Linked DNA regions of Homo sapiens: region 2 is linked to region 1. A link means that fine-mapping ties the variant in region 1 to the expression of a gene that starts in the linked region. Tissue or cell type: whole blood. Region 1 holds a variant in brackets; the other region holds the start of a gene. All regions are shown on one strand. Distances are from middle to middle.

Region 1 (2,688 bases):
TCCCTCCTCTCCTTTATCCTTCCCAGCCTTTAGTAACTACCAATGCACTCTCTATCTTCATGAGATTCACTTTTTTTTTTTTGCTCCCACACGAGTGAGAATGTGATATTTGTCTTTCTGTTCTTGGCTTATTTCACTTAACATAATGTCCTCCAGTTCCATCTATGTTGCCACAAATGACAGAATTTCATACCTCTAAAAGCTGAATAATATTCCCTTGTGTACATATACCACATTCTTAATCTATTCATCTGTTGACGGGTACTTACATTGATTCTATGTTTTGTTTTTTATGAACAGTGCTCCAATAAACATGGGAGTACAGATGTCTTTTTGATATATTGATTTTCTTTCTTGTAGATACGTGGGTTGCTGGATCATATGGTAGTTCTATTTTTAGCTTTTTGAGATACCTCCATACTGTTCTCCACAGTGGCTGTACTAACTTACATTGCTAACAGTGTATGGGAGTTCCCCCTTTCTCTGCATCCTTGCCAGAATCTGTTACTACCTGTCTTTTTGATAAAAGCTATTTCAGCAAAGGTGAGATGACATCTCACTATAGCTTTGATTTACAATTCTCTGATGTTTAGGGATGCTGAGTATTTTTTTTTATATCTGTTGGCCATTTGTATGTCTTCTTTTGAGAAACGTCTATTCAGATCTTTTGCCCACTTTTAAGTTGAGTTATTTGTTTTCCTGCTATTTAATTGTTTGAGTCCCTTATATATTCTGGTTATTAATCCCTTGTTAGATGGGTAGTTTGCAAATGTTTTCTCTCATTCTGTGGATTGTCTCTTCACTCTGTTGATTGCTTCCTTTGCTGAACAGAAGCCTTTTACTTGCTGTAATCCCATTTGTCTATTTTTGCCTTGGTTGCCTGTACTCTTCAGGACTTACACAAAAAAAGCCTTGGCTAGATCCATGTCCTGAAGCATTTCCACAAGTTTTGCTCTAGTAGTTTCATAGTTTCAGATCTTAGAATTAAGTCTTTAATCCATTTTGATTTGATTTTTGTATGATGAGAGATAGGAGTCTAGTTTTATTTTTCTGCATATAGATATCCAGTTTTCCCAGCACCATTTATTAGAGAGATTGTCCTTTCTCCATCATATGTTCTTGGTGCCTTTGTCAAAGACAAGTTGCCCCTAAATGCCTGGCTTTATACCTGGGTTTCTAATTGTTTCATTGGTGGTCTGTGTGTCTGTTTTTATGCCAGTATCATGCTCATTAAACAGGTAGTGTGATGCTTCCAGCTTTGTTTTGTGTGTTTTTTTGTTTTTTGGTTTTTTTTTTTTTTGAGACGGAGTCTCGCTCTGTCACCCAGGCTGGAGTGCAGTGGCGCGATCTCGGCTCACTGTAACTTCCACCTCCCGGGTTCAAGCAATTCTCTGCCTCAGTCTCCCAAGTAGCTGGGATTACAGGCCCCCGCCATCACGCCCAGCTAATTTTTGTATTTTTAGTAGAGACGGGGTTTCACCATGTTGGCCAGGATGGTCTCGAACTCCTGACCTCAGGTGATCCACTCATCTTGGCTTCCCAAAGTGCTGGGATTACAGGC[A/G]TAAGCCACCACACTCGACCCAGTTTTCCTCTTTTTAATCAAGATTGCTTTGGCTAGTTAGGAGTTTTTGTGGTTACATACATATTAAATTTTTTTTCCCATTTTTGTGAAGAATGTCATTGGTATTTTGATAGGGATTGCATTTAATCTGTAGATTGCTTTGTGTAGTACTGTCATTTTAATGATATTAATTCTTCTAATCCATGAGCACGAAATATCTTTCCTTTTTTTAGTGTCCTCTTCAATTTCTTTCACAGTGTTTTATAAATCTTTCATTTCTTTGGTTAAATTGATTCCTAAGTATTTTAAATTCTTTGTAGCTATTATAAATGGGATTGCTATCTATCTATCTATCTATCTATCTATCTATCTATCTATCTATCTATTTTTGAAACACAGTCTCGCTCTGTCACCTAGGCTGGAGTGCAGGGGTGCGATCTCAGCTCACTGCAACCTCCGCCTCCCAAGTTCAAGTGATTCACATGCCTCAGCCACCCGAGTAGCTGGGATTACAGGCGTGCACCACCATGGCTGGCTAATTTTTGTATTTTTAGTAGAGAAGGGATTTCGCCATGTTGGCAAGACTGGTCTCAAACTCCTGGCCTCAAGTGATCCACTCACCTTGGCCTCCCAAAGTGCAAGGATTACAGGCATGAGCCACCATGGCTGACTGGGATTGCTTTCTTGATTTCTTTTCCAGATTGTTTGCTGTTGGCATATATAAATGCTACTGATTTTTGCCTGTTGATTTTGTCTCCTGCAACTTTACTGAATTCATTTATCAGTTCTAACAGTTTTTTGGTGGATTCTTTAGGTTTTTCTAAGTATAAGGTCATATCATCTGCAAAAAAGGCTAATTTGACCTCTTCCTTTCCAATCTGGATGTGCTTTTTTTTTTGTTTTGTTTTTGCCTAATTGCTCTAGCTAGGGTATCTAATAATATATTGAATAACAGTGGTGAAAGTAGGCATCCTTGTCTTATTTCAGATCTTAGAGGAAAGGCCTTCAATTTTTCCCTGTTCAGTACAATGTTACCTGTGGCCTCCCATATACTTTAAATAATCTCTAGATTACTTATAATACCTAATACAATACAAATGCTATATAAATAGTTGTTATACTGTATT
Region 2 (2,688 bases), 77 kb after region 1:
CATTAAATGGTCATTCTGTGGTCAAGGGATGAGAAGTAAAAGCTATGAAGCAGTTAATGTACAATGCCTGCAACTTTTGAGTACTCTTCAACTTTTTCCTGCATCTATTCCAAAACCAAATCCTGCCATTTTTCCAATAGGATATTTCCTGAGTTTGCCCCTTCATAACCATTCTGACCATCTAAATCTTATCAATTCACGCTTTTGGAAAGGCCTCTGGCCCTTATGTAAAGAGCCCTCCACTTGCTTGCATCTTGCACAGAACTGTAAAAAGGTCCTTTAAATGCTCAGACAGCTTCCAACTATCTCCAAAAGTGAAAGTACTTACCCATGATTGTAAATATCCCTGTCCCACTCTCAAACTGTCCGCTCCCCATAGACCAACTGGAGCTCTTTAAATAAGTCAGACAAATATATTCCTCATTCCTCAAAGGACTCACCCTCCCTTTCACATTCCGGTTGTGCAGATTAAACATACTCCACACCATCAAACCAAGTTATTTTTCCTCGAGAACTCTCTTAGAGGTTCCTTTTTCTCTAACAGCCTGCCCACCTCTGATTCCTGGGATTTTCGTGTTGACGGGATCGTTGGGATCTTTCCTCTCTTCTCATCTTTCCAGTAACCCATTAGCATTAGCAGGATTATTGGACAGGCCTCCGTTTGCATTAATATCTCCAATGATTCTGTGATCTCCGCCCTAAAGACCTTTGATTTCTTTTGGTCGCGCCTCCCCTTCGGGACACCAAGTTTGTTTAGGGCCTGAGCACAGGGGCCCAGCAGGTTCTTTCCGACGTCAGCGGCTGCGTACGGAGGCCGACTTAGGCAGGCCGCTCCAGGAACAAGGCCGTGCGGACAGGACTGACCTAGGCGCTTTTCCCCGTCGCTCCCAGAGGAGAAACGTACCGGGGAGGGGACAGACCGTGAGCAAGTGGTCCAAGTCTGCGCAGGGTGACCCCGAAGGCCCACCGGAGAGGCCGAGGCTTGTGGGCTACTAGAACTAGGCCTGGTAGGTGAAGGAGGCGGGTGAAGGGCCGGATCCAGGACTGAATCCGGGAGAGGCGGGGCGAGGAGGGGACTCCGGTGTAGCTGCTTGGGCAGCTCCCGCGGCCCCTCTGGCGGGGGTGACCGTTATTGGACTCGCAGAGGGAAGAGTTGGGTAGCGTCCCCTACTCACCTAGAAGCGCTGCCGCCTGAGGCTCCAGCTGCCCCCCTCCCAATTCAAGCCACGTCAGCTCGGGAAGCCCGTACGCGACACCTTCCACCGCCGCGCCCCGCCAGGGACTCAGCCACTAGCAGTTGGGACGGAAGATGGGATTAAGACACCGACCAATCAGGACTATCGGCAGGACGTTACCAGGGAGACCAGGCACACCTTGTTTGTTACCAACCTATCAACAATGACGGAAACCAATCAACGACAGAAGATGCTCCGCTTCCTCAAAGAAACAGCCAATGGACCCTAAAGAGTGAATGAGGGGAGTGATTAGACGCGAGTAGGTGCCCCGGAACAAGATCTGGGGAGGGACAGGAAGTGTCGAGTGGGCGGGCGTTCTGGGAAAGGTCAGATGTTCTCAGTGTGAAGTGGTTATGCTGGCTTCCTCCAATTCCTCCTCTTCGTCGGTTGTGACTGACCGAGACAGCGGCTTGGGCTTCGGCAGAGACTTGAGACTGCGGGCACCCGCTGCCATTAGGATTGTTGAATGAGCTGTGAGAAGGGAGTGGGGGATATGGGACTCTTAGATTGAAAAAATACTGGAGCCTCTTAGTTGTTCGTCTAGTTTCACCTTTTGATTTTGTTGATGAAAAATAATTAACCACAGAAGTAACTTGCCCAAAGTCAAACAGCGACTTAGTGATGGAACTCGGACTAGAACCCGGTGTCAGTATGAAAGAGGATCAGCAATGTCTGTAAGGACATGATTGTGAGAGAGAGAGTAGTGAATACTAGGAAGGTGCCTCTTACAAAGTGGAGCCTAAGCCAGGACCTAAGCAAAGATTGAGAGTTGAGGGCTCAGGCTCTGCAATGAGTGTCAGTGAGGAGCTCCAGCAAAAGACTGAAATCACTCATGCTTTCCTTAAACCCCTAAGGAAAGGGAAGGAAAGTAGCCAGTTTCCAATGAGCTGTCATTTCAGGCACTCTCTTGGCAATAAGAGTAATGTTAGTTTGAATTTATTGAATCTTGCTGTGCACTCAGCTGGCCCATTGTATGTATACTCATCTTAATGATTACATAACTTCACAATTCAAACATCAGCTAAGTAAGGCCTTTCCTGGCTGCCCATCTTACGGAACTGGAGGTCATTATTCTAAGTGAAATAAGTCTGGCACAGAAAGACAAATATCCCATGGTCTCACTCATGTGGGAGCTTAAAAAGTTGATCTCATGGAGTAGAGATAAGTACCAGAGGCTGGGAAGGTGGAGTTGGGGGAGGGAGGGAAGAGATTGGTTAATGGGTACAAACGTAGATAGAAGGAATAAGTTCAAGTGTTTGATAGCACAGTAGGGTGACTATAGTTAACAATATGTTATATATTTCAAAATAACTAGGAGATTAGAAATGTTCCAAACACAAAAATGATAAATGTTTGAGGTGATAGATATCCTAAACACCCTGATTTGATCATTACACATTGTATGCATATATCAAACTACCACACCCCATAAATATGTACAAATATGTATCAA

Evidence for each region. PIP is the estimated chance that this variant, and not a neighbour inherited with it, causes the effect.
Region 2: it holds the start of GOLGB1, and the variant in region 1 is fine-mapped to the expression of GOLGB1 in whole blood (TOPMed, PIP 0.97).

Annotation. Positions count from the first base shown.
Region 1 is chr3:121,671,788-121,674,475 of GRCh38, forward strand. The region is part of intron 17 of GOLGB1 (golgin B1); the gene reads right to left. Among named protein-coding and RNA genes, the nearest start is that of HCLS1, 12 kb to the left of the region's middle. The variant A/G (reference allele first, on the strand shown) is at 1,562.
Region 2 is chr3:121,748,457-121,751,144 of GRCh38, forward strand. It overlaps GOLGB1 (golgin B1), which reads right to left and starts at 1,285. Exons shown (of 22, transcript NM_001366282.2): 1 at 1,176-1,285. RefSeq lists enhancers at 943-992, 1,013-1,252.